4 linked regions of the Homo sapiens genome follow. The protein of the gene in region 1 purifies or fractionates together with the protein of each later gene. This does not show direct contact. Each region holds a gene or a part of one and is shown in the gene's direction. Other genes may lie near its edges. The genes, in order: MAOA, PACC1, MIEF1 and GDPD5.

Region 1 (7,321 bases):
TTTATGTAGGAGAAGCTAAATTCCTAAAATAATTTCCAAAAAATTCTAGAAATTGTACAATTATTGTACTTAAAATCATCTCTGTTCTAGACACAAGGTTTCTGTCCCATCTGTTTATCAGAGTGATTCTTTTATGTTAACTGCTACAGAAGGGAAGTGACTGTTCTTCCTTCTAATTCACGCAAGTGATTATGGCCACTCTTGCAATAGTAAATTCTGCCTTTTGGATTCTTAGTTTTTGCTACCCACTTGAATTTGCCCAGTTTCCATATCATTTCCTTTATTAATAAGTGAATTCATTTCGTTCATTGGCTGGACACATGGCGAAGCCAGAATCCTAATTCCCCAGACTCTGAGATTCTCTGCTTCAACCCTTTCTGTTATCCAAAGAGAATGGGTATCTCTGTTCTATAAATGTTGTGCTTGGATGGTATGAGGTTTAATTAGTAGCAGTTTACTTCTAACTTAGGTTCTCTGAGTTCCTGAATTCTGAGTGCACAGTACAAGGTATAGAGTCTTTCTCTGCCAAGTGAATTATTCTTCTCCTGAGGAGATCACCGGAAATCCCCAAGTTCTTGTGACACCAAGACTCATTGCCCATTTGACCCTTAGCCTTGACAAATGCAGGACAGTTGCATTTTTTAAATGTCTTTACCTACAGGCAGAGATGACAGATTACTCCTTTTAGCCAGTATTTTACTTTCTGAGGTATTTTGATTTACATTTGATATTTGTTTCCTTCATTCAGAGGAGCCAGGATACTTCTAGCCAAATTCTACATGACCTTTTGGAAAATATGGTTCAGATGATTAATCTCAAACCATGGTCACAATATTTTTATAAAGAACTTAGGCTTATCCTGTAATTTAATTCAACAAATACTAGACCTGGAGGGGTGGACAGTGAACAAGACAGAAACAGTTCGTGGTCTTTCCACCACACTAAAACTCAAAGTACCTCTTAGAAAACAGACCAGATTATAAGTTAAATGGTCTGGGTTTCTTGAGGAAAGACAAATCATGAATTTAGGTCTGAACCACTCTGGGAATTTTTTTTCCTTTTTTTAATTTAATTTTTGAGACAGAGTCTTGCTTTGTTGCCTAGCCTGGTCTCCAACTCCTGGGCTCAAGCAGTCCTTCCGCCTCAGCCTCTCAAAGTGCTAAGATCACAGGCATGAGCCACCATGCCTAGCCAGGAATATTTTTTATAAAGAACTTTGGTGTTGTTATTAAAACAGTAGCCAGTTACAAAAGTGCAAAAATCACTGCGTGGCTGCTTATGCAGTTTTCTGGAGGAGTATGATTGAGGAATCTGTTAGGAATCTTCTGGCTGGGCGCGGTGGCTCACACCTGTAATCCCAGCACTTTTGGAGGCCAAGGAGGGTGGATCACCTGAGGACAGGAGTTTGAGACCAGCCTGGCTAACATGATGAAACCCCATTTCTGCTAAAAATACAAAAATTAGCCAGGTGTCATGGCACGCACCTGTAATCCCAGCTACTCGGGAGGCCAAGGCAAGAGAATCACTTGAACCCAGGAGGCGGAAGTTACAGTGAGCCAAGATTGCGCCATTGCATGCCAGCTTGGGCAATAAGAGTGAAACTCCGTCTCAAAAAAAAAAAAAAAAAAAGAATCTTCTATAATAGGCTAAAAATATCCTTCTGGTTCTTACCAAAAGCATTGTGTTAAGGACTTACCTTCTTAGATTAAGCTGGAAACATTTCCATGGTGATCGTAGCAGAAGGCAGAGGGTAGAGCACTTCTGGTCTTATAAGGGCCGCTCAAGAGAACTATTTAACAATATCTAAAGGAGCAAGCAGATGCTTAGCCTTCACCCTCTGCCTCTGCCTTGAAGCTTCCAGATAGTTTTGCAAAAAGTTACTCAAGATCTGATATTCCGAATCTTTTTTTTTTTTTTTTTTTTTTGAGACGGAGTCTAGCTCTGTTGCCCACGCTGGAGTGCAGTGGTGCAATCTCGGCTCACTGCAACCTCCGCCTCCTGGGTTCAAGTGGTTCTCCTGCCTCAGCCTCCCGAATAGCTGGGATTACAGGCACGTGCCACCACGCCTGGCTAATTTTTGTAATTTTAGTACAGCCACAGCACCCGGCCCTTCTTCCCATTCTTAGAACATCATTTGGTGGTGACTAGTAGGACTAGTAGGACGTGACTATCCCTAAAAGCACCCTGTAACTTTGTCTATAATATGGCTCTATCTGCATCCTTACCTGCCTGGACAACCTCAGCCCAGAACACAGGAATCAAAGGAAATTAGAAACTTCATCCTCTGGAATAAGCCCTGTGCCTGCCCCTTCTCAGGGCTCCCTCCACACCCTGCACTCTTTGACATTTGAAGCCCACAGACTTGCTGATATTCCCCTTGGTCAGGGCAGCATTGGCATAGTGGAACATTTCTTCGGGTTCTGTGATTTTTATAAACTTGTAATGGCTTTTCTTTGCCAGAAGCTGTGCAGGGAATGATCATTGAATTGTCTTGGTCAACTCTGCCTCTGTCCTAATGAAGTCTTCTGACAGTTAAGTGTGCAGACGTTAGAGGTGTGGCCTGTGACTTTCTGGAGGTTTTCTAATCAGTAGCCAGTAGGATTTTCCTTCCTTGGGCTTTCATAATGTTTCCTTTCTTACCTACCTCCTCCTGTAGGAACGGAAGTTTGTAGGTGGATCTGGTCAAGTGAGCGAACGGATAATGGACCTCCTCGGAGACCAAGTGAAGCTGAACCATCCTGTCACTCACGTTGACCAGTCAAGTGACAACATCATCATAGAGACGCTGAACCATGAACATTATGAGGTAACTCAGTTTAGTCAAAAGGAGCATATAGTAAATAGGCCTTGTGTCTTTTGCAGTTTCTAACCAGATATAATTCAAGCAGTAGCATAATTAATGCTGACATGTTTCCGCCTCAGTCTTCCAAATTACCAGCCTTGGTTGACCTACCTTGATCTGTTTTGTTGCCTCACAGTTGCCTCATTTTCTCATTTTGTATGTTTTTACTGCTCAATGTTGTTTAGAAGTGATAAAGATGATTTTTCACGCCTGCCACAAAGACTGCAGCTCACATTTGAGGTAATATTTTGCTTGTGTGTGTTTTAGTGCAAATACGTAATTAATGCGATCCCTCCGACCTTGACTGCCAAGATTCACTTCAGACCAGAGCTTCCAGCAGAGAGAAACCAGTTAATTCAGCGGCTTCCAATGGGAGCTGTCATTAAGTGCATGATGTATTACAAGGAGGCCTTCTGGAAGAAGAAGGGTAGGCTGCTATTATTCATGTTTAAACTGTATTATATGAAGAAATCACAGTCTTTTAGGATTATTGAACAGAAGGTATTGAACAGAAACAAAGTATTTTCAAACTGGTAGAAAAAGGATTAGAAATCTTGGTCTGTCAATTTCCTCATATCCTTGGCCACACATAATGACCCCAAGAGCACTTGTTGGCAATGGGAGGGAAGAAGGAGATCACATCAGTCATAAGGCCACCATTGCCCTGACTCCTGGCATCTGTCCTGCTTCTTACTTTTTATGAGCAGAGTGAGGTCAACAGGCACCATGGAAAGAGCACTGCGTTGAAGTTACACATTCCGGGACTTCGCTTGCTTGCTAGCATCAGTCTGTAGCTGTAAAGTGGTGACAGTAATACCTACCACTACGGTGTTGTGAGAATTAAATGAGGCAGGATCTTGGACTTAGAAAGCTGCCCAGATATGGTGGCTACTGTTGATAAGCATTCTGGTTATACTCATCGGATTCCCTCCTCCCACCTCTTCCCTGGATTGGGTCATTCCCTCCAATGCAGCCCTTCTCTTTCCTCATGTATGCTAGGAGCCAGGGTTATCTTACCATTTTTGTCATGCATTGGCTGGTCATAAGCCCTTTATGTAAAGGTGATGGAGATGGGTCATTTTCTGTCTGTGGGTGAATAGACATCCTTATATATTCAGTGTGTGTATTTAACAAGACATGTAGGGTTGGGGCCAAGACCAAGAGTTTAAGTTTTTACTTCCTCTTAAAAAATAGTTTATATATATTTATGTGTGTATGGGTGTCTCTGATGAGCTTGATCTCGATCTCCCATTGATTTTTCTCCTGGTTAAGATTACTGTGGCTGCATGATCATTGAAGATGAAGATGCTCCAATTTCAATAACCTTGGATGACACCAAGCCAGATGGGTCACTGCCTGCCATCATGGGGTAGGTTAGAGCAGGGTGTTCTGCATTTTCCAAATTGTGTTGATGTATTGGTGTGGATGCTGTCAAAGTATATTACTTTGGAATTAAGTTCAAGCAATGATGAATAATGCTATCAAAATATATAATGTTTCCATGTGTTAAAATATTGCAGTAATGTTTCGTATGTAGCACAAGAATACTGGGAAACTTTACTAAAATTGACACCATTTTGAACTTGTACCCATGTATGTCTTTCTCTCATACAAAGCTTACGTGTTGAGGATGGAGTGAAAAAAAGCAGCTAGACAGGCAGTATGGTAGCCACCCCTGCCTACAGGCAGAATGTCCACAGCCATTCTGAAATGAGAACTAACCGCTTTATTCTATAAAAACATTCTAAATGTGGGGTTTCTCGGTTTTATCCTTTTCTCCATTCCAGATATCTGCTACATAGCAAATGTTAGTTGTTACCCTGAGATATAAGACAGCTGACCAATTAGGAGGCCCAGTTCAGAATTGAGCCAGGCCTTGATTGGATGGCATGGCAGTTTTTCTGGTGGGTCACTCTAGTTATCCTTCACCAGTGGTGCTTCACTTAACCTCTAAAGTGTGCGGATGACCCAGGGCCTGGTTCTGTGTAGGGAAAATGAGAGCTTTTCCCCTCTCTTCTCATTCCGGCACATAGCTGTCCTACTCGTTGGGGGCTGGGGAGTCCAGAGAAGGAAGTGGTGTCCCCACAAATGAATTGCTAAGGAGTTCCACAGCCTCCCTCTTGCCTGCCTTTTGGCCTCCTCAAAAACTATACAAATAAAAGGCGATTTATTCTACCACACTGTAACAAAAGAACATAGCTTCAGTAGCAATCAAGTGACTTTTAGAGACCAGTGGTCTCCCCTTTACCCCTAGGAAATGCATAGCTCTTGCTCAGAGGGAAAGGTGAACTCATGCACATCATGTCATTGAAGGAAAATTACAAAGGCAAAAGGAGCAGACCCACATCCCAGGGAAGTTAGAAAGCAGGTTGTGCTGCTGGTTACTAATGAGACATTTTATAACCACTTCTCTCATTGTAACATATAAGAACACCAGCCTCCCTGAGAAAGGCAGGTGCTTACAACATAATGACTGTTGGAATAACACATCCTCTTCATCTCTAACCCTATTGGGCAGAAGAGGATATAGGTTGTTTGGGTAGTTTGACATCATCTTCTATATGCCAGAGAAAAGCAGGAGGTTCAGGTACAGGTTTCAGGAGAATGTCGGTTAAGACAAATCCAACTATGAATGGAAGAGCAATTGATATTTTTCTTGCCCTGGGAGTTAGATATAGTGATGTCTTCTGCTGTTTTTGGGCTTTCTTTTTTTTTTTTTTTTTTTGGAAGTGGAACTCAATATTTTAATGATTTTACTTAAGATAAATAGTATAAAAGGAAAATGTTAAACGGTTGTGTTCTGTGGACAGTGGGGCTAAAACAAATATAAAATAATAATAATTGGTTATAGAGGACCAAGTACAGAAGATGAGAGTTTCCTTGGAAACTGGGGAATACCAAAATAATCTGTTTCTTAACTTGGCGATGTAGTCTTAAAAATTAAAGCTACCATTTATTGAGCATTGGTTGTGGGTGCAAGTTTTTATGTGTACAATGCTTTTGGGCTTTCTTCAGCTTTATTATTAACTAGGTTAGGGCTCAAATAACCTTCCAGGTGTTAATGGAGTTATTTAGGCAATTCTTAGAAAGTGATATTCTAATCTCTTTCATCTTGACACTTGCCTCCACCCTGCTCTTTGCTGATGGCCACAGCCACGAAAACCTTGAAGATAGGGGTGGTAATTGCCCAGCACTGTGTTTGTAATAAACTTTTGGAAACTAGAAAGGACCTTGTACTTTAGAACTGTGAAATGTTTCCAACACAAAGCCAGCATGTTTAATTTCCTCAATAAAACACCAAAGTAAGTTAAAGCTTATTTATCCATAGTTGGGATTAGATCAAAGAGATTATTTCATTCATGACTTGAGATTTGACAGAAATAACCAACACTAACTGCCCTTTGGGAAGGGAACTGTAAAAAGTATACAAGACAAGTTGACTAAAAATGTTTTCAGATAAATCATTTAATCTTTTATCAGATATTGATGATTAAAAAAAACTATATACATCTAAACTTACTGATTCTTGCATAAACCCAGAATCTAACTAAAATAATTAATAACAAGCTATAACTTGAGGTGTTAAATCATGCAAAATTATGACTATATCCCATAAAGTTCAATAGTTCAGATTTCCTAAATAGTCCACAGCTTTCTCTGAAATACTATTCTCTACATTAACATACATCTTTGCTTCTCAAAGTGATCTCAAATAACAGCCCTAAAGGAACTGCCAATCCAATTTGAGGAACACTTTAATTTGTGGGTAGGGAGAGGAGGAAATATCTGTTTTTTGCACTGATCTACCTGTCCTTTTGGTCTTGAATAAAAGAAATACAAATTTAAAAATTTTTTAATGGAAAAATAATTTCATTGTCCTTTAGCTCATTTGGATTTTTGAAAGCTTTCTAATAATAGTATAACTAAGGACTTCATGTCACAATTCAATTCTTTTAAATATACATGCAGTTAGTAATATCAGTATAATAAATAGAATATATTTGATTAAAGGGGAGCAGGCAGGTTATAACTGAGTTTTATTGAGTTACTTTATTTGGGGACTATATTAGGTCAGTTTCCAGGGAAGCTGACTCAGAGCTGGAGATCTGGGTGCTGGAACTTTATTGGGAAGTGCTCTGGGGATGACTACCTATGGCAGAAGGATTATGCGGAACTTGAGCTCCAATGTTGTCCCAACAAAGGCCTCTGCCATTCCCTTGGAAGTTCTGGAGCTGGGTGGCCCTTCAGAGTTGTCTTCAACCGCATCTAGGTCAGAACAACTCTAGGGAGGGGTGGGACCTTGAGCGAGGCATTCTCTGCTGCCCCGTCCAATTACTGGGGAAGGTTTCAGCTGTGAGGTAAGAGTAACGAGTGCCTGGTCCCAAAGGGAGCCTGGGGGGCCCACCGTGGCCTCCACTACAGACACATGTTTATATTTGTTTTTCCAGCTTTGATAAAGTATTTGGCAGAAGGCAACAG
Region 2 (7,321 bases), on another chromosome or scaffold:
TGAGAAGAATGTATATTCTGTTGATTTGGGGTGGAGAGTTCTGTAGATGTCTGTTAGATCTGCTTGGTGCAGAGCTGAATTCAATTCCTGGATATCCTTGTTAACTTTCTGTCTTGTTGATCTGTCTAATGTTGACAGTGGGGTGTTAAAGTCTCCCATTATTATTGTGTGGGAGTCTAAGTCTCTTTGTAGGTCACTAAGGACTTGCTTTATGAATCTGGGTGCTCCTGTATTGGGTGCATATATATTTAGGATAGTTAGCTCTTCTTGTTGAATTGATCCCTTTACCATTATGTAATGGCCTTCTTTGTCTCTTTTGATCTTTGTTGGTTTAAAGTCTGTTTTATCAGAGACTAGGATTGCAACCCCTGCCTTTTTTTGTTTTCCATTTGCTTGGTAGATCTTCCTCCATCCCTTTATTTTGAGCCTATGTGTGTCTCTGCACGTGAGATGGGTTTCCTGAATACAGCACACTGATGGGTCTTGACTATCCAATTTGCCAGTCTGTCTTTTAATTGGAGCATTTAGCCCATTTACATTTAAGGTTAATATTGTTATGTGTGAATTTGATCCTGTCATTATGATGTTAGCTGGTTATTTTGCTCATTAGTTGATGTAGTTTCTTCCTAGCATTGATGGTCTTTACAATTTAGCATGTTTTTGCAGTGGCTGGTACCAGTTGTTCGTTTCCATGTTTAGTGCTTCCTTCAGGAGCTCTTTTAGGGCAGGCCTGGTGGTGATAAAATCTCTCAGCATTTGCTTGTCTGTAAAGTATTTTATTTCTCCTTCACTTATGAAGCTTAGTTTGGCTGGATATGAAATTCTGGGTTGAAAATTCTTTTCTTTAAGAATGTTGAATATTGGCCCCCACTCTTCTGGCTTGTAGAGTTTCTGCTGAGAGATCAGCTGTTAGTCTGATGGGCTTCCCTTTGTGGGTAACCCGACCTTTCTCTCTGGTTGCCCTTAACATTTTTTCCTTCATTTCAACTTTGGTGAATCTGACAATTATGTGTCTGAGAGTTGCTCTTCTCGAGGAGTATCTTTGTGGCATTCTCTGTATTTCCTGAATTTGAATGTTGGCCTGCCTTGCTTGGTTGGGGAAGTTCTCCTGGATAATATCCTGCAGAGTGTTTTCCAACTTGGTTCCATTCTCCCCGTCACTTTCAGGTACACCAATCAGACGTAGATTTGGTCTTTTCACATAGTCCCATATTTCTTGGAGGCTTTGTTCGTTTTTTTAAATTCTTTTTTTCTCTAAACTTCTCTTCTCGCTTCATTTCATTCATTTGATCTTCCATCACTGATACCCTTTCTTCCAGTTGGTTGAATCGGCTACTGAAGCTTGTGCATTCATCATGTAGTTCTCATGCCATGGGTTTCAGCTCCATCAGGTCCTTTAAGGACTTCTCTGCATTGGTTATTCTAGTTAGCCATTCGTCTAATCTTTTTTCAAGGTTTTTAACTTCTTTGCGTTGGGTTTGAACTTCCTCCTTTAGCTTGGAGAAGTTTGATCGTCTGAAGACTTCTTCTCTCAACACATCAAAGTCATTCTCTGTCCAGCTTTGTTCCGTTGCTGGTGAGGAGCTGCGTTCCTTTGGAGGAGGAGAGGCACTCTGATTTTTAGAATTTTCAGTTTTTCTGTTCTGTTTTTTTCCCCATCTTTGTGGTTTTATTTACCTTTGGTCTTTGATGATAGTGATGTACAGATGGGGTTTTGGTGTGGATGTCCTTTCTGTTTGTTAGTTTTCCTTCTAACAGTCAGGACTCTCAGCTGCAGGTCTGTTGGAGTTTGCTGGAGGTGCACTCCAGACCCTGTTTGCCTGGGTATCAGCAGCGGAGGCTGCAGAACAGCGAATATTGATGAACAGCCAATGTTGCTGTCTGATCGTTCCTCTGGAGGTTTTGTCTCAGAAGGGTACCTGGCCGTGTGAGATGTCAGTCTGCCCCTACTTGGGGGTGCCTCCCAGATAGGCTACTCAGGGTTCAGGGACCCACTTGAGGAGGCAGTCTGTCTGTTCTCAGATCTCAAACCCTGTGCTAGGAGAACCACTACTCTCTTCAAAGCTGTCAGACAGGGACATTTAAATCTACAGAGGTTTCTGCTGCCTTTTGTTCGGCTATGCCCTGCCCCCAGAGGTGGAGCCTACAGAGGCAGGCAGGCCTCCTTGAGCTGCGGTGGGCTCCACCCAGTTCGAGCTTCCCGGCCGCTTTGTTTACCTACTCAAGCCTCAGCCATGGCAGGTGCCCCTCCCCCAGCCTCACTGCCGCCTTGCAGTTGGATCTCAGACTGCTGTGCTAGCAATGAGCGAGGCTCCGTGGGTGTGGGACCCTCTGAGCCAGGCGCGGGATATAATCTCCTGGTGTGCCATTTGCTAAGACCATTGGAAAAGCACGGTATTAGGGTGGGAGTGGCCCGATTTTCCAGGTGCCATCTGTCACAGCTTTGCTTGGCTATGAAAGGGAATTCCCTGACCCTTTCTGCTTCCCGGGTGAGGCGATGCCTCACCCTGCTTCAGCTCACACTCGGTGCGCTGCACCCACTGTCCTGCACCCACTGTATGACAAGCCCCAGTGATACGAACCCAGTACCTCAGTTGGAAATGCAGAAATCACCCATCTTCTGCATCTCTCTCGCTGGGAGCTGTAGACTGGAGCTGTTCCTATTCAGCCATCTTAGAACCCAATATCAATAGTCTTTTTTTTTTTTTTTTTTCTTTTTGAGATGGAGTTTTGCTCTTGTTTCCTAGGCTGGAGTGCAATGGCGTGATCTCAACTCACTGCAACCTCCGCCTCCCGGGTTCAAGCGATTCTCCTGCCTCAGCCTCCTGAGTAGCTGGGATTATAGGCATGCACCACCACGCCCAGCTCATTTTTGTATTTTTAGTAGAGACGGGGTTTCACCACATTGGCCAGGATGGTTTCGATCTCTTGACCTTGTGATCCGCCTGCCTCAGCCTCCCAAAGTGCTGGGATTACAGGGGTGAACCACCACACCCCCGGCCTCAGATATTTTTTGTGACCCATTTTCTGTCTCCAGTTACATGTCACTACACTGCTAGATACTGTAACAATTTTCCGGGCTCCATTTGGTTTTTTTTTTCCTTCAATATTTTCTTCAAATTGGATAGTTTCTGTTGATTTAACTTTGAGTTCACAAACTCTTTCTCTGCCATCTTTTGCTATTAAGCCTATACAGTGAACTTTTTATTTCATTTATTTCTTGTCAGATCTGGAATTTCCATCTGTTTTTTTAAATTTTATGAAACATTTTTACAGTGGTTAGATACACGTAATGTAAAACTCATCATCTTACTCATTAAAATGTAGAGTTCAGTGATATTAAGCACTTTCATATTGCTGTGCAACCATCACCACCATCCATCTCCACAATGCTTTTTCATCCTGCAAAACTGAAATTCTATATATTTGGCCATTGTTATTAGTTTCTGTTTCTCTATTGATCTTGTCTTTATTCCTTATTCAGATATTTTCCTTTAAGTGCTGTAAATTTTCTCTCTGCTAAATTGCAACACTGGGTCATCTTGGTGTTGGTTTCTATAGATTGCTTTTTTCTTGAGTACAGGTCACATTTTCTTGTTTCTTAGCATGTCTAGTGATTTTTGATTGAACACTGGACATTATGAATGATATAGAGATTCTGGATTCTGTTATGATCTTCAGAAGGGTATTTTTTTTTCTTGGCATATTGTTAATATGGCAAGATTTAAGCTCTAAACTCCTATCTCCCCTGCATTAGCCGTAGTTGAAATCTCCATGCAGTTCTTTCAATTTCCAGTTGTTACTTTTTGCTGGCCCCCCCTGGGTTCTCCAGCCAAGGATCTGAACATATATTTAGTTGCAGATTTGGGAGTTTCACCCCCTGTGTGGCTCCCTCCCTTTCATGGTTTTGTCTTAACTTTCTGGCTGCTCTTCCAGCCCTGAACTTTGTCCCTGTCACTCTGAACCATGCCTTATAGGGATTGGCATGTATTCTTAGGCAAAAAGCTACAGATGTATAAATCTCACCAAGTACAGTTCTTCTCTTTCAAGGGTAGCCTCTCTTTCAATTTCTACCTGCTTTTGATCATTCTCCCAGTGCCTTCAAATAATTTAAAATATGTTGTCCAAAGTTTATAATTGTTTTCTGTGGAAGGGTGATGTGACACTGCTACTCTGTCACTGTTGGAAGCCAGATGCCAAGCAGATACCTTTTGGGGCTTACGTTCAGATGCTTCCCTTGTTCTCAGCCTTGTGCTCAGCTGGGCTGTGGAGGAAATAGGACTTCTTCTCAGGGAGCTCCATTTTCAGCTGAGGAGCAGAGAGGGCACAGGGAGCCCTGTGGGAGTATCTTAGTCAGCTCAGACTGCTGTAACAAAATGCCACAGTTGAGTGGCATAAACAACAGAAATTTATTTCTCACAGTTCTGGAAGCGAGAATCCAATATCAAGGTGCCAGCAGGATTGAATTCTGGTGAGGCCTTTCTCCTTGGCTTGCAGATGGCTGCCTTCTCATTGTGTCCTCACATGGCCTTTTTTCCTGTGTGCATGTGCTCCTAGTGTCTCCTCCTCTTATAAGGATTCTGGTCCTATTGGATCAGGCCTCATCCTTATGGCCACATTTAACCTTAATTATATCCTTGAAGTCCCTGTCTCTAAATATACTCACATTGAGGGTTAGGGCTTCAACCTGAATTTGAGGGTGGGGGATACAGTTTCGTCCATAACAGAGATTAATCTAGCTTCTAGCCTCAGGATTTTGTGAGGGAGGTAGGGGAGACAGAGTTGTGTTGTACCAATAGCATCAGGACGTGTTCAATCAGTCACCATGTAAATGCAGAATGTTCCAGGCATAGCATGAAGGGCTAAGGATTCAGTTAGGGATAAGACTGGCCCCATCCCTGCCCTCATGGAACTCACAGCCTAGGAGGATAAAAGATGTATAGACATGACATTGCAGAGTGATGAAGTAGGGGACGTACAGGGCTCCCTGGGAACACTGAGGAAGAGGTGCCCAAATAAAGGTTAGGGGTCAGGAGAGGCTTCCTCAAGAAAATGTCTTTCTTTCTTTTTTCTTTTTTTTTTTTTTTTGAGATGGAGTTTCGCTCTTGTTGCCCAGGCTGGAGTGCAATGGAGTAATCTCGGCTCACTGCAACCTCCGCCTCCTGGGTTCAAGCAATTCTCCTGCCTCAGCCTCTTGAGTAGCTGGGATTACAGGCATGCGCCACCACGCCCAGCTAATTTTGTATTTTTAGTAGAGACAGGGGTTTCACCATGTTGGTCAGGCTGGTCTCGAACTCCCGACCTCAGGTGATCCTCCTGCCTCGGCCTCCCAAAGTGCTGGGATTACAGGCTTGAGCCACTGCGCCTGGCCAAGAAAATGTCTTTCTAAATTAAAATGCTTCCATGGAAGGATGGCGTGACCAAGCTACTCTGTCACTGTTGGAAGCCAGATGCCAAGCAAAAAGCTTTCGGGGCTTAGGATGAGTGAAGCATCAGCTGTGGAAGAAAAGAAAATCAAGCAGAGGGAATGGTAAGTGTGAGGGAATCCCGGGTTGAGAAGGGCACTCCAGAAGAACAGAAAGTCGATGAGTAGAGGTGGAGCTAGAGCTGGGAGAACTGGGGAAGTGGAGCAGTGAGGGATAAGGCCAGAGAGGTAGGTTGGGGCCAGCTCACTTGTTGGATTGTAACTGCCTATCCCTCTAGAGAGTAAACTCCTTTTTTCTGTTCTTTTTGTTTGTTTTTTGCTTTTTCTTTTAACATTTTTATCGTTTTTTATCTTTTATCTTTTTTCTTTTGAGAGTAAACTCCTTAAAGACAATGAATAAGTCTCCTTCAGCTTGGTGTCCTCTACCTGGCAGAGAAGCTGTGTAGTAAATGTTTACAGGTGCCCTTTGTTATGATTTGTGGGGTGAGGTGGAAAGGTTGGGCGTGCAGGTGACTTCACCTCCTTGGTGAGGCAGGCAAGGGCCTGGAGGTTGCTGGCCATCTCTGTCTGTACCTTGTCCCTGTGCCCTGGGTCACATGGTGTTTTGTTGTTGTCAGGCCTGGACAGCGAGTCCGCCTCCAGCAGCATCCGCTTCAGCAAGGCCTGCCTGAAGAACGTCTTCTCGGTCCTACTCATCTTCATCTACCTGCTGCTCATGGCTGTGGCCGTCTTCCTGGTCTACCGGACCATCACAGACTTTCGTGAGAAACTCAAGCACCCTGTCATGTCTGTGTCTTACAAGGAAGTGGATCGCTATGATGCCCCAGGTAGAGCCTGCCCCTGGGCCAGGCATCAGGGCCCCAGATCTAGGGTGTCAGCTGGCAGATACTCCCTGAGCTGCCGTTGTATTTGTGGTACTACGGGCAGGGCAGAGGAGTCCAACCAAGCATAGTCTAGGTATAGAGTCTATGCCCAAGGAGCTGCTGTTGGGAGTGTGTTACGTGCTGAGGACAGAAATGGACAGAGCCTGGAGCAGCTACTGCAGGCTACTAGAGGGGTCAGGGAAAGCTTGGCAGAGAGGTAGGATTTGAGATGGGCCTCGAAAAGCACATAGATGGGAAGAGAGTGTCTTTGGGATGGGGATCAGCAGAGCGAAGGGGTGTCTAGGGAGGCAGAGGGCTTCTCTGGAGAGGATGAGACTAACTTGGCTGGGGCCAGAGGGCAGGGATGAGGAGAAGCAGGAGTCAAGGCTGGACTGTGGGGTGGGGAGGATGGCAGGGGAGGCGAGGCCATTCAACCCTGCCTGGAGAGGGACTCCCAGGCCACACTGGGTATACCTGTCTCACTGGGGTGTCTGGTCCCTGAGTGGGGAGTCCACTCTGCTATAGAGCAAGCTATCTGCTCTGGGCTGCAGGGCTGGCACTGGATGTTCTAGGGGCTGTAGAGTAAATGAGGAGGCATGAGCTGTGTGACTTGGGCCCTGTCCACCCAGTGTGTGCCACCTGTTCTGCCCACAGATGCCCCTGAGTAACCTGTGGGAGGGCCTGCTCACATGGCAGAGCCAGAGTCCGGGTGCCCTCTCTCTGGGGCTTCCTGCCAGCCTCCAGCAGAGTCAGGTGTGCTGGTCATGGCTCCTCTGCCCATCTCTTCCTGTCTTGTGTTTGTCCCTCTTCTCTGTGTGTCTGCTTGAGTCTTCTTTATCTGTACGTTTTACTTTCTCTGTCTGGTGTCTTAGTGTCTCTGAAGTCTGTCTGTCTCTGATGCCATGTGCTGCTGTCTTAGCATTGCTGCCCTTGAGGCTGGACAGCTACTGTCAGTAGAGGTGCCTGGGCTGGGAAGAGGGAGGGACTCTTGGGATGTGACTTGCACACTTGGGGCTCCCAGTCTAAGAGACAA
Region 3 (7,133 bases), on another chromosome or scaffold:
GTGGCCAGCATGGTACCCCTGTAAGGCAAATAGCCAGAGTTGAGGCTGGGCCTGGTCTGGAAGGACGTTGACTCCAAGTTGAGATTGTAATGTATATCTTCTTATGTGGGGACCATCACAGCTCTGTAAACAGAGGAATGACATAGCCACATTTGTATCGTAGAGGGAGCATACCAGTGGCAGTGTGAAGAATAAATTGATGAGAGATACTAGAGGCAGTGGATGTAGCCAGATCAGATTGAGGGACCGAGGGGTGGGGGTGGCCACATATAAACACAGTGTGTACAGCAGTGGGACTTGGTGATCAGTTGGCTGAGGCAGGAGGAGGAGAGAGAAAGATGAAGAGTAACTGGGTGTAAGGCCTGCCAGCTGGGTGGAGGGTGCTGCTTTTAACTGGGGGAGGGAAAGTAGGAAGAGAGCCTTATGTAATGACTTTTGGTTCTTCTCAGCCACTTAGGATTGGCATATCTGCCTTTGGCAGTACAGGGCCAGGGGTGGGGTGATGCCCATGGGAGCCTGTCTGCACAGGGAGGGTTGGCTAGCGGATCTAGGAGGGAATTAGGGCGTTCCTTGAAATCTTTGTGTTCCTAATATATTTTGGCTGTGAGTTGGGCTACACGCTGCTATCACTACCCCCTCAAAAAAACCAAGAAACAAAACGCCGTAGAGTTAATACTTCATTCCCACAACATATACTCCCTATGCATCAAACACTGCACACCCTGGGGATGCAGCAGTGAATGAGCCCAAATGTCCCCCAGAAGCATATGGTCTGGGGGTTAATGGAGTGGAGATGGGAACAAGGTGTGGAGCAAGTACCTAGGACCCCTGTAGATTAGTTCTCCGCACCGCGTGATCTCAGGGTTCAAATCTTGGTCACATACTTTACTGACACAGTGACCTTGGGTCAGTTACAGAAACTACTCAGTTTCTTCATCCTTTAAATTTGGGATAATATTACTGATCTCATGGGATTGTTGTTGTGAGGATTGAGGGAATTAATAATAAGTGTAAAATTGCCAGCACATAATACACACTCAATATCTGCTACCTAGTCTCGTACATACTCAAGCAAGATAGGTTTATAAAAAGGCCTATGGCTTTTTCAATTAAAATAAGTTGGAACTTTCACACTTCTGTGCTGTCATCCTAGGAAGCCGCAAGGCCTCCATTATTCATCATCCTTAACTATATTAGGGTGATGAGCATTTCTGTTCCCATTTTTGTATCTAGCGAGACAGGTTAAATAACTTGCCTGAAATATTGGCAGAGCTGAAATTCTCCATCCCTAGTTCTGCCCACCAGGTCTGTGTTCCTTCTTTGTTTTTTATTTTAACCATCTTAACCATTTTAAAGTGTACAGTTCAGTAGTAGTAAGTATATTCACATTGTTGGGTAACAGAGCCCCAGAACCCTTTTCATCTGGCACATCTGAAACTCTGTACCCATTAAGCAATGGGGTTCCTTCATGACAGTCCCGATTGGAGGTGGAGTTCTTACCTGCTAGTAGGCTGTAAGCTTATGCAGCAGAACCTGAGTGGAGAGCGTGTCATGGAGAAGCAGTTTAAACTGGAACAAGTTGAATTAACTTTTCAAGTAAGGTCCGTGTCTGTCTGTTGAGCTTGTGGATGCCGTCTTCTGTTCCAGGTCACCAGGTCTGTGATGTCAGTCCGTCCTTGGATGGTGGGCGGGGGGTGCCTATTGCACTACAGTAGGAAAAGCCTTTTTTTCTTGAGATGGAGTCTTGCTCTGTCACCCAGGCTGGAGTGCAGTGGGTGCAATCTTGGCTCACTGCAACCTCTGCCTCCCGACTTCAAGCGATTCTCCTGCCTCGGCCTCCCGAGTAGCTGGGACTACAGGCGCCTGCCACCACACCTGGCTAATTTTTTGTGTTTTTAGTAGAGACAGAGGTTCACCGTGTTAGCCAGGATGGTCTCGATCTCCTGACCTCGTGATCTGCCCACCTTGGCCTCCCAAAGTGTTGGGATTACAGGCGTGAGCCACCGTACCCGGCCGAAAAGGCTTAACAAGCTGGCCCAACTTAATAGTTTTGATCTCAGCTGTTGGCTCACGCCTGTAATCCCAGCACTTTGAGAGGCCAGGGTGGGCAGATCACCTGAAGTCAGGAGTTCGAGACCAGCCTGGCCAACATGGTGAAACCCTGTCTCTACTGAAAATACAAAAAATTAGCAGGGTGTGGTGGCTCATGCCTGTAATCCCAGCTACTAGGGAGGCTGAAGCAGGAGAATCACTTGAACCTGGGAGGTGGAGGTTGCAGTGAGCCGGGATTGCCCCACTATACTCCAGCCTGGGTGACAGAGTGATACTCAGTCTCAAAAAAAAAGAAAAAATAGTTTTGATCTCAAGTCCAAGATGGCATCACTGCGAATTTTCAAGGCCGTTTTAGAGCAGTCTCAAAAGGTGCACTGTCACTCAGAGGACAGTCTGGGTTGCTGACTGACTTCTGGAAGCTGACCTTTGTCCTGTGGATGGAAATCTTAAAAGACTAGAGGAGAACTCATTTGTGGAGCACTTTTACAGTTTATAGACCATCCACTGCAATACAGTTTATACCGTTCACATACAGGATTGCAGTGAATGGTTTTTCCTCACTACAACCCTGTGATTTGGTCCCACGCGGGGACCATTATCCCCTTTTCGTAGCTGAGGTGTTAAGTAACTCATTTGAGGTCACCCAGCTAATAAGTCAGGGCTCAAGGCAAGTTCTGTATCTCAGGATTTCTGACTCTAAAACCCACGCTCTGTTCTGTCATCTGTAGCACCACCTTGCTCTCACCAGTCATCAGAAGGGCACCAAGGACTAAAATGGTCCAGGGAGGCTGCTTCTGCCCTGAGTGAGGAGGTGCCCTTCTGGCCCTGCTGCATCACACTCAAGGATCATTTAGAGGGCACATGTGTCCAGTGGCTCTCCCTATTGTAAATATTTCAGTAAAGAGTTAAAACAAGAGACATTGTTATGTGTGGGGAAATGTATAGTGTTCTGCTTTTCTCCTGATTGGGTTATCTTGCCTCTGCTAAGTTTGGTTTGTCCCGTCTCTATCTCAGTGGCCACTGGAGAGAGGGTGTCTGCTGTTCTTCCCTGATTCCACCTGTAAATACAAACGTTATCTCTTCTCCCTGGCTTTGCTCTGTGCATTTGAGGTGGGAATGTACTCGGTTTGGCGAAATAGTCTTTCATGTCCCTAAACCTGAAGCCTCTATTGACTGTAAATGGTAGAGAAAAGGAAAGTACCCCCAAGGTGTGAACTCTAGTTAGGGAAAAAAATATTTTTGGGCTTGACAGTGACTCTTAGTTAACTCAATTACTGGAATAATAGAGTCAGAAATATTTCTTTGTTTTTCAGGGAGGTAGAGGCAGGAGCGTAAGATGTGGAAGCTAGAAATATCCACTTGTAACACGGTATTAGAAGGAATGTTATTTTACATGGAAGATAATCCTCAGTGATCCTTTTTTTTTTTTCTTCAAGACGGAGTCTTGCTCTGTCACCCAGGCTGGAGTGCAATGGTGATTCTCCTGCCTTGGCCTCCCGAGTAGCTGGGATTACAGGCATGCACCATCATGCCTGGCTAATTTTTTGTATTTTTAGTAGAGATGGGGTTTCACTATGTTGGCCAGGCTGGTCTTGAACTTCCGACCTCGTGATCCACCCACCTTGGCCTCCCAAAGTGCTGGGATTACAGGTGTGAGCCACCGCGCCCGGCTGATCCTGTCTCTTGATGTCCTCCCATTCTGGGACGCTAAATGGTATCCGACTTTGTTTTCCCTTATGTCATTCCTGGTGTGAAGGACACGGGATATTATAGAGGAGAGTGGCAGCATGCTGAGTGGTATTCCGATCTGAATCACACTGTCATCCTTTATCCGGCTCAGGCCCAGGGTTCTAACTCCACAGGAATGGGCTTATCTGGGGACTGCTGCTGCTGCAGTCAGGAAGACTCCACTGTAGTCGGGAGCAGCACTGGCCTGAGCACTGCACTGGAGGCCAGCCTCTTCGCTGTGGTGCCCAAGTACTTCTTTCAGGTGAACACATTTTTAGTTCCTCTTCCAGGTGTAATCGAGCAGATGGGTGTTTTGTTTTCCAGTTAGCAGTCGAGTCTGCAGTGTCCTTTGTGTTTTTTATCTCCCGGTATACCAGTCTCACCTAAGCTTTTATAGTCCCCGCTGCGCACTTCTCTCAAGAAACAAAGCATTTGTCAAGTAGGAGGGTCCATGGAGGGACCTTTCTCACATATGGACGTGTAGTTTCAGTTCCGTGTGCAGGATGTTTGGTACATGTTGTTTTGTGTTTTGTTTGCAGAAAGTAGATAGAATAAGGGCCGATTTGATTTGGGTAAGGGTGAGCATGGTACAGTAGAAAAAGCGTCATACAAGGAGTGGGGAGTCCTGAGTTCTGGAGATGACTGTGTCGTTTTGTTTTCGTTTTTGAGACGGAGTTTAGCTCTTGTTACCCAGGCTAGAGTGCAATCGTGTGATCTCGGCTCACTGCAACCTCCGCCTTCCGGGTTCAAGGGATTCTCCTGTCTCAGCCTCCTGAGAAGCTGGGATTACAGGCATGCGCTGTCACATCTGGCTAATTTTATATTTTTAGTAGTGACGGGGTTTCTCCATGTTGGCCAGGCTTGTCTTGAACTCCTGATCTCAGGTGATCCGCCTGCCTCGGCCTCCCAAAGTGCTGGGATTACAGGCGTGAGTCACCGTGCCCGGCCCATTTTGTTTTTTTATTTTTATTTTTAAGAGATGGGGTCTCACTCTGTCACTGAGGCTAGAGTGCAGTGGCGTGATCATAGCTCACTGTAGCCTCAAACTCCTGGGCTCAAGCATTCCTCCTGCCTCAGCCTCCTAAGTAGATAGGACTACAGGCATGTGCCACCATGCTCAATTTATTTTTATCTTTTACTTTTGGAGATGGGGGTCTTGCCATGTTGCTCAGGTTGGTCTTGAACTTCTGGCCACAAGCGATCTTCCCACCTCAGCCTCCCGGGTAGCTAGGATTATAGGCATGAGCCACTGCGCCTGTACCATTTCTTTTCTCTGAGACCTGACACATCACCTCCCTATGTTGAGAACCTCTGTGTGAGGTGATGTGATGGCATTAGATGAGCTCCAAGGTCCCGCTCAGATCTAACCTTCCACAAAGTAGTGGCCAAAGGACGAAGAAATGACCTGCATTATAACCCCTGTGATGGGGTAGAGAGACCTGCTTTATAACCTCTGTGAAGGGGTAGAGAGACCTGCATTATAACCCCTGTGAAGGGGTAGAGACCTGCATTATAACCCCTGTGAAGGGGTAGAGACCTGCTTTATAACCCCTGTGAAGGGGTAGAGACCTGCATTATAACCCCTGTGAAGGGGTAGAGACCTGCATTATAACATTGTGAAGGGGTAGAGACCTGCATTTTAACATTGTAAAGGGGCAGAGAGAGGGCTGTTTTGCATGGTGGGGTACTTCATTGTAATACAAAAAAGGACTGACACTGAGCTTAATGCTTTCTTAATCTCACTAGCTTGGGGAAAGTTTTCCTACAATACCCAAGATCAGCCCCTCCTCCTTGCATCCTGATCTATCATGGGACATTGTAGCTCCCTCCAGACCCTAAAGCATGCAGTGCTGGAGGCAAGAAGATTTGGGTTGCTGGAACTCACAGAGTACCCTGTACTTGTTGGGGTTTGGCTTGTTAGGGGAGGGAGGTTCTTGGGGTCCCAGTACTTATGGCCGTGTTCTGTCTTCATTCTCAGATGAGCAATGGCAGGCGCTGGTGAGCGCAAAGGCAAGAAGGATGACAATGGCATTGGCACGGCCATTGACTTTGTGCTCTCCAATGCCCGGCTGGTGCTGGGGGTGGGTGGAGCGGCCATGCTGGGCATCGCCACGCTGGCAGTTAAGCGGGTAAGTGCATGCAGCCAGGGCTGGGGGTGGAATGTAGTGGTATGGTCATAAGATGTAATGTTTTATAGAAAGAAAATGTCGAAGCGTTCTAGGAGGAAATGATCGCAATGATAAGTGAAAAAAACAGGTTTCAAAAGTATGTATAGAGTGATCGTCATTACATGCATCTAGAAAGAAACATACCAGATATTACAAACAGTTTTCTCTGGGTCATGACGTGGATTATCTATGTCTTATATCATGTAGTCTTCCCTGAGATTTTCTGCGTGGAGCAAAGTATTCTATAATCTAAAATAAAAACAAAATTACTAAAAGAACTTACTAGGACAGAGCTTCTGGGGAGGAAGTAAATTGGAAGGAAATAGGGAAAGAGGGCAGGTTTATGTCCTGTGTCCTCTCTGCTATTTCAGATGTACGATCGGGCGATCAGTGCCCCTACCAGCCCCACCCGCCTGAGCCATTCGGGGAAAAGGAGCTGGGAAGAACCCAACTGGATGGGCTCCCCACGACTGCTGAACAGGGACATGAAGACGGGCCTGAGCCGGTCCTTGCAGACCCTTCCCACAGACTCCTCCACCTTCGACACAGGTGAGAAGGGCTGCTGCCCCTCCTGGGACCTCTCTGGACTTTCAGTACCACTCCTGCACTCAGCAGATGTTTCCTGAGCACATCTGTGCCAGGCACTGTGCCAGCACTTGCCCTCCATGCCAGGCCCTTCTTTCTGGGGCTGAGGCAGCTGTGGACTGAGCAGGCATGGGCAGAGCTCACGTGCCTCTCTCTCTTGCCTTGGCAGATACATTCTGCCCGCCCCGGCCCAAGCCAGTGGCCAGGAAGGGCCAGGTAGACTTGAAGAAGTCACGACTCCGCATGTCCCTGCAGGAGAAACTTCTTACTTACTACCGGAACCGGGCAGCCATCCCTGCTGGAGAGCAGGCTCGGGCCAAGCAAGCTGCTGTGGACATATGTGCCGAGCTCCGGAGCTTCCTGCGGGCCAAGTTGCCTGACATGCCGCTTCGGGACATGTACTTGAGTGGCAGCCTCTACGATGACCTGCAGGTAACAAGGTGGTTCTCATGGTGGGTGGGGTTTGAGTGCTGAGCACCATAGTGTTGTTGGCACAGATCAGTGTCCCAGGCTTGCCAGAAAGACTGAGGTCTTACAGCTTCCGAATCCTGTGTACCTCAGCAGCATTTGGAGATCCATGCTTGTTATTCTTTTTTTTTT
Region 4 (7,321 bases), on another chromosome or scaffold:
CTGCCTCTGCTCCACTTACCTCCCCACCTGTCAAGACCTGACTGAGGTCATAAATTCCCTCAGAAACATTCCTGGATTACCCAACCCTCTGGTCATGCCCCCTCTGAATCTTTAACATTCAGCAGTAATAGTAAAAAATAATACCTACTATCCATAACATTTTGCAGTTTGTAAAATGTATCCACACAATACTACAGTGATGATATCAACAACAGCTGATATCTTGAGTACTTACTATGAGCCAGACAATGTGCTAAATGTTTTATAGACACTCTTGTTCACACAAACTCCCTGAGGTAGCTACTGTTATCCCCTAGAAACTGGGGCTCAGAGAGGTACCTGATCTTGCCCGAGGTCACACAGCTCAAAGGTAGGGAGCAGGGAGCCAAGCTGCATCTGTTTGAATTGTAAATCTGTGCTTAGAAGATGTCCTGTCTCCTCACCTCCACCCAAGTACCTTGAAAGCATACTTTGTGTGTAAAAAGCCTGGACAAGGTTTTTTCTCAAGGCTAAGGAAGGGCAGTGTTGGACTGAGCATGGGGCCCAGGAAGGACCTGGGCCCTAGGCCGTGCACAGGCTGGCTGGTTGTCTGTGTGACCTGGGGTGAGTCGGCCCCTCTCTGGGGTCCCGTGTGTCCATGTCTATGGGGAGCAGGGTGGGTTCTGAGCTCCCCTGTAGCTCCAGCTTTCTACATCGTCTTTCGTGACCCTGGAGGGAGGAGGAGGAGACCACAGCACCAGGGCCAGAGGATGTGGTATGACGGGCAGCTGTGATTTTTGGCCTGGCCACTGTCTGGGCCAGCAGGCTGTGTGGGTAGCTGCCTCGCCCAAAGGAGGGTGGTGGCCTGAGCTGCAGGCAGCATGGTCATTAGCTGGCAGAGGAGACCCTGTGATTGGGAACTGGCTGGGCCAGGCCAGGCCAAGTTGGCGGGACTGGAGGCAGGCTGGCCGGGCCACAGCGGGGTCACTGGCAGGGCAGCCAGCTTCTCCTCCCTTTGCCCCCTTTGGGGTGGTGGCAAACACACACTGGGCACCAGAGCTTTGTAGGCCAAGGCTTACCCTTTCTCCTGCTGTGACCATGGGAAAGAGCAGTAAGGAGTTCAACCAGGTCCAAAGATGCTGCCTGCTATAAGCTTCCAGTACTCCTCCCATGCAGGTGGGATCCAAGCCTCCTCTGCTGCTGATTCATGGCCCTCTGCACACTGACTGTGGTCTGTGGATTGGGGTTCTGCTTGGTCTGCTTCCCTTGCTGGCTTGTCAAAACTAGATTCTATGTGCCCCCACCGAATCCTCCCCTCCCTCTGAGTGCCTAGCAGTGTGCCTGGCACAGAGCCACACCCTCCGGGCCAGGGGAGGCAGTGCAAGCTGCCCCATGGACAACTTGCTCAACTTTTGCACCTCTGTTTTTTCCCTGTACATTGGGGCTGATAATAACTGTTATTAAATGAGATGAAGGAAGTGGGGTGCCTGTCCAGGCCTGGCACACAGGTGGGTACTCCATCAGCATGAGTCTTCTTGCCCATCCCCTCGATGGCTTCGTGAACGAGCAACTCAGTAAGAAGCTGATGGAAGAGTCCAGTGAGTGATGGCTGGAGGGAGGGCGTGCCAGATGGCAGGGAGGCCTTCCCTTAGGGGGACTTAGCTGGGGTTTGCAGATTCACAGTTCCCACCACCTTCCCTGTGAACAGTGGTGTGTAAGCAGGTGCTGTTGGCCTGGAAGGGTCCCGAGCTAGGTTCAGGGGAGGGAGCAGGACTGGGATATCTGGGGACTTGGGTTTTCTTCTCAGGCCTACGCAGAAGAAATGACCCAGGTGGGAGAAGCCGTCTGGCGTCCAGCTAGCAGATGCTGGGCAGAGAGTGTGAGTTCTTCCTTAAAGGGAAGCAGCATTTATTTGGTGCTGCTCACACACACATCCAACCGAAATGTAACATGGTTGGAGATTCTGGTCTGTGGGGGAAACAGCATTAGACAAGGAAACACACAGATGCAAAACTTCCAAATTGTGAGAAGCAGGCTCCTGAGGCAGGGGCCGGTCCCATCAGTATCTGTGGCTGGTGGCACAGGGTAGGGCTAAATGACTTGGGCAAGTGATTTAACCTCTTTGGGCTTTAGTTTCCCCATATGTAAAATGGGGATAATTACAGCATCTTCATCATAGAGTTGTGAGGGTGAAATGAATTATACGTGTAAAGCACTCAAAAAAATGCCCAGCACATAATGAGCACTCAGTGCAGGTTAGCTGTTATGATCTGTATCTCCAGCACCTCACAGAGGATCTTAGAGAAAACAGGTGCTCAGGAAAGGCGTTTGGAATGAATCCCAGGCAAAGGGCAGCTGCTCCGTGGAATGAATGAATGAACAGCCTGGTAGGGTTGGGAGGACACAGAAGCAGTGACAACACAGAATGTGACAGGGAAGGCCAGGGGCCTGGGGTTGCCCGGCGCTGGGTGGGGAGGGGAGTCAGGGAAGCCTTCCTGGAGGTGGTGCCCATGTTGCTGACTTTGGACCTCTGTGAGATCAGCACTGAATGAGCTGAGAGAGGAGTAGCTCCTCTCCAAAGGTAGCTGGCAAGGAGGAGAGCTTGGGCAGACCCCAGGACCAGTGGACTCCACAGGCCTCTCACTTCCCACCAACCCACACCATCTCTCCATCTGTGACATTCTGCTTTCAGGGCATGAGGAAGGCGGAAAGGCAGGTGGGGAGGAAGTGTGGGCTGCTGGTCTGACAGGCTCAGCTCTTCCCAGGCTTGTGACCAAATCTCCTGCAGAAAAGGATAAACAGGCCTGCTTTGAGTTCTTTTATCTTCTTGCTCCCAAGGCACACCAGCAAGCAGAGGGGGTCTTCCAGCGTTAATCCTGCAGCTGTTTAGCTTTTGAACGAGTGGACTCTTTAAAAAAAATGCCACGAAGAATGTCTCACTCTCTCACCCAGGAGGCTCAAAGAGAAACTTCTCTCCCACTGACAAGGGAGCTGGAACCCCCAAGTGTCTTAAAGAAGCTCACCCCAGGGGCAGTCTGAAATCAGGGGACCCCTCATGCTGCCTCGATTTGTTGCTGGCTGTGGGGCCTTGAGGACACCCTTATATTTTGCTTGGCTTCTGCCCATTTTGTAAAATGGGGTCAGGGTAATAAATCCCTTCTTTCCTTAGAAAGGCGTGTGGCAGGAGAGTTTCAGAGGTGGGAAGGGCAGCAGTGGGCATCCAAGCCCATGGCTTTCAAACTTTGTTTCACATTAGAATCATCTGGGAAACTTTTAAAAGTCCTGCAGGCCCCACAATCTCTGGGGCATGACCCAGGCATCAGTAGTTGATGAAGCTCCCCTGGTGATTTCAGTTTGAGAGCCACCTGGCTGCCCTCTGCAGCCTACCTCCCACAGTGTCCCAAGACAATACTTGCACATCCCCAGGACAAGGAGCTCATTCCTTCCGAGGCTGCTTCCTCCCCCCAGGACCTTCCTGCCTGGAGAGATGAGGGGAGTGGGAAGACTTGGTAATCCAGTTAACCTGGGTTCCAGCATGCAGCTGCTCCCTGCGTGTCTTCTCGGAGCCTCAGTTTCCTCATCTGAAAAATGACAATAACGATCTCTCTGAAAGGGCCACAGAGGCCAGACGAGGCCACACATGGCAAGCACCCACCCCATACCTGACGCCGGGCTGGACTGAGACCCTGAACTCCCTGCCCCAGCCACCTGAGGCCAGGTCTCTGAGACTGGCGCTGGTTAGGGTGGGATCAACACCCAGCCCGGGGGCCCTTCCCACTGTCCCCTTTCTCTCTAAGAGATAAGACAAGGCAGTAAGCATTTTGTTTTGCTCAGTTTTGCTTTAATGGTCAAAGTGTCAGACTCTCCTTAACAATGAAGCCTTGTCTGAATCTGCTTGTTTTTCCAACCCGGACACCCAACTGCACCACCTGCTTGGGGCCCCTGTCCCACCTGGGAGAACTGAAGAATGTCAGAGGATTTTTTTTTTTAATCTAGGGGAGGGTGTCCAGGGAACATTGGAGGCCTCTGTGCAAATCCTCACCGATAATTGACCCCACTTAAGTCATCCAACTCTGCTGTGATTGTGAGCCAGTTCACTAAAATTATTTCAAGGTAGTTACTAGGTGTTGAGCTAAACCCCTATCAGTGCCAGTGAGGATGGCACCAGGCTCAAGAGGCCAAAGAGGAGACCCAGAGCCAGCGAATGAGCCATGGGGTTTTACTACGGGCTCACACACAGGGGAGAGAGTCCAGTGGCTGCTGGCTGGACCGAAGAACCACAACCACTCGCAGGAAGTGTGCAGTTTTTTTGTTTTTGGTTTTGGTTTTGGTTTTTTTTTTTGAGACAGAGTTTCGTTCTTATTGCCCAGGCTGGAGTGCAATGGCGCGATCTTCACTCACTGCAGCCTCCGCCTCCCAGGTTCAAGCGATTCTCCTGCCTCAGCCTCCCAAGTAGCTGGGATTACAGGCAAGTGCCACCACACGCAGCTAATTTTGTATTTTTAGTAGAGATGGAGTTTCGCTATGTTGGTTAGGCTGGTCTCAAACTCCTGACTTCAGGTGATCCGCCTGCCTCAGCCTCCCAAAGTGCTGGGATTATAGCTGTGAGCTACCGCCCCCCAGCCTAAAAGCTTGCAATTTCTATAGCATTTTCACTTAGCACCTCCCCCAACAACTTCCACCTAGCAACCTCCATTTACCCCAAACCACAGACCTCAATCCTCTGTTTGGCCCGCAAGTTCCATAGGATGGGCCAAGAGCTCAGATGTTCCTCATAGATAAGGAGTGGATCTCCGGGTTGGCTACTCCCAGATTCCTTAGCTTAGAACCAAACTGCATTGAGGTGCGCCTGCCATACAAGGTCATTCTCAGGGCTTGCTCAAGTCCAGGTATCACTGTCCAACGTGTCTACCATACAGAAGACAGAAAACTTATGTTGATCCTGGCTTTGTCACTTACTGGCAGGATGACCCTGGAAGAATCATTTTATCTCTTTGAGCACGAGTTGTTTCTCCTATAAAATGCATTTGTAGGAAGGACTTCCTGGGATTACCTGAGAAGCAAATAAAATTACTGGTATGTGGAGCACAGTGCCTACCGTAAACTAAGCACTCAAGAGCTGTTGGTGCATGCACTTGCTGGGGAGCTGACCCCTGCCTCCTGCCCCTTCCTTCACTGGCTGGTCCACGCTCCCTGTCTCCCAGTCTGCTCCCCTTGCCCCACCAGGCCCAGGCTGAGACAGAGGACAGAGGAGGCCTGCACATGTAATCATGGGCATCCCTTCAAACTGCTCTTCTTTAAGACCAGAGGAGGCTCTGAGGACTGGACAGAGGAAGACTACAAAAGGGGCCATCAGTGGCAGTGCTTGGTCTCCTTGCCTGGGCACAGCCAGAGAGGGTACATCAACCCAGAGTGACTGGCTCAGGCATTAGGCGTGTGACAAATCAACACGGGATAGTGCAGCACCGAGGGACTAGCAGTGGCTGGGAGCAGTTACCACTCAGGGCTGAAGGAGCAAGGGAAGTGGGCAGCTATAGGGATAGGGGCTGTGGGCCATCAGTACAGGGACCCAGTCAACCCAGGAGACCTCACAGGGGATAAACTTCAACTATCTTTCCTCTTTCCTTCAGTCCCCCATTTATGCTTCCTGTTGGGTGTACCTCTCTGAAAGCCAGCAGCATGGAGCCCATTACATTCCACAGAGGTCAGTTCCCAGGGCCCCAAACAAGGTAGAGAGTGGCTCTGGAGAAGCAAACCAAAGACACTTCCTCACTCTGTCCATCAAAAGCCCGGGAGTCCACTGAATACACTGTCCTTAGGACACAGTTTAAAGATCATCTGTTTTTACCATACCCCTTAATGAAGGGGCTCTCAGCCCTTACCCCAAAGATGAATCAGCAGCCGAGCTGCCACAGACACCTCGGCGAGAGGAGTTTTGGAGGTACCCATCTCTCCCTCTCTGCCTCCTCCACCAAAGTAAGCTATAGATGGCTTCTGGGGTGACCCTGCCAGGGACAGGGGAACCTCTGGAGTGGAGCAGAAGTCACAGGTAGGCTAGTGTCAGGCGAGTTCAGGTGCACAGAGCAGCGGCCCCAGCCCTGCTGCGACTTGCCCATCCCAGAGCTGGCCATGATGTGGCCACTTCACACACCTTCCTTAGAGCTGGGCAGTCATTGCCACAGTTCTGGGGATAGCCCTGGACCCAGAACATGTTCCTCATGTCCAGGGTGTTAAGAGCCATGCCACTCTGAGTTCAGAGGGTCTCCCAGGAGCCTATGAATGTCAGGTAAGAGGAGCGTGGGGCTGGGCAGGCCTGGGACAGGCCGTGCAGCAAGTGCCACCAAATGCTGCCAGGCCTTGTGATGGGGAGTCTGGGTGTGGAGTTAGGTGGGGGGTGTGGTTCTTGCCAGGCAGGGAGCAGGAGGCATAATGGTGCCAGAGACTGAGCCTTGCCCAAGAGGAGGCATGGTCAGGGAGAGGACAGAAGATATGACACTTTGCATGGAAACCATGTGGGAGGCCCCCACGGGGTGTTGTCTGCAGGGGCACAGCCGGCAGGTCTAGGACACAGAGCCCTTTACAGCTGGCTGCCAGCGAGCACTCCCTCTCCTTCCTGAAAGGAATGCCCCTGGCATCTCCACCAGCTCACACCTAGGCATCTGAGGTGACACAGTGAGATGCCCATGGCAGGTGTGGTAACACCTGGATCCTCAGAGACTTCCTGAGAAGGGAGGTATGTGGGCCTCGGAGTCAGAATTCTGGCTTGGAATCCTGGCTCTGCCTCTCTTGAGTGGAACTTAGAAGACATGGGCAAGTCACTTAGCCTCTCTGAGCCTCAGTTGCTCACCTATAAAATTAGAGCAGCAACACTTACCTTCCAGGCTGGTTTGAAAGTAAAATGACATAATGAATGAGACAGCATCCTGTATTTCAGAGGAGATGCTACAGTTGCCCTCATCATGCCCCCCTTCTCTGTATGCTGTTCATGCTTAATGCCTCTGCAGGAAGTTCTTTCTTGAGACTAATTGAAGTCCACTCTGCTGCAATTGGAGCCTTCTTCCTCTTGCTGGGGACTCTGCAGAGGCAGACTGAGCCCCTCCTCTGTCCAGATGTGCCCTGTCAGTGCCTGCAGTGAGTGAAGCAGAGAACTGGGTGACCAGGTGTTGATTTTCACCTTGGAGCTTGGGGGTTCAACTGTCAATGGCCAGAGCCTCTTGACCATGGCAGGATAGGGGGTGCATCATCCTAACTCTTCACACTGTTCTTCCTCTCTGTGCTTAATGCATGCTCCAAAAGGGGTGACTTTGGGCCCGTGCAGAGAGCCCTGGGCTGGGCCTAAAGG

Evidence for each region.
Region 2: the proteins of MAOA (region 1) and PACC1 purify together in Homo sapiens (co-immunoprecipitation; one large-scale study listed by IntAct). This does not show direct contact.
Region 3: the proteins of MAOA (region 1) and MIEF1 purify together in Homo sapiens (affinity purification with mass spectrometry; 2 studies listed by BioGRID and IntAct, with this or other methods). This does not show direct contact.
Region 4: the proteins of MAOA (region 1) and GDPD5 purify together in Homo sapiens (co-immunoprecipitation; one large-scale study listed by IntAct). This does not show direct contact.

What each region holds. Positions count from the first base shown.
Region 1 is NC_000023.11:43,728,585-43,735,905, forward strand, and holds part of MAOA (amine oxidase [flavin-containing] A), read left to right. Parts: intron 1-2,656; coding exon 2,657-2,806; intron 2,807-3,109; coding exon 3,110-3,269; intron 3,270-4,114; coding exon 4,115-4,211; intron 4,212-7,321.
Region 2 is NC_000001.11:212,385,822-212,393,142, reverse strand, and holds part of PACC1 (proton-activated chloride channel), read left to right. Parts: intron 1-6,042; coding exon 6,043-6,252; intron 6,253-7,321. UniProt on the Homo sapiens protein: Chloride channel gated by pH that facilitates the entry of chloride ions into cells upon exposure to extracellular acidic pH. Involved in acidosis-induced cell death by mediating chloride influx and subsequent cell swelling.
Region 3 is NC_000022.11:39,505,530-39,512,662, forward strand, and holds part of MIEF1 (mitochondrial dynamics protein MIEF1), read left to right. Parts: intron 1-3,892; exon of another isoform or gene 3,893-4,042; intron 4,043-5,758; 5' UTR 5,759-5,765; coding exon 5,766-5,909; intron 5,910-6,319; coding exon 6,320-6,497; intron 6,498-6,702; coding exon 6,703-6,965; intron 6,966-7,133. UniProt on the Homo sapiens protein: Mitochondrial outer membrane protein which regulates mitochondrial fission/fusion dynamics.
Region 4 is NC_000011.10:75,514,455-75,521,775, reverse strand, and holds part of GDPD5 (glycerophosphodiester phosphodiesterase domain-containing protein 5), read left to right. Parts: exon of another isoform or gene 1-2,761; intron 2,762-3,502; exon of another isoform or gene 3,503-3,560; intron 3,561-4,349; exon of another isoform or gene 4,350-7,321. UniProt on the Homo sapiens protein: Glycerophosphodiester phosphodiesterase that promotes neurite formation and drives spinal motor neuron differentiation.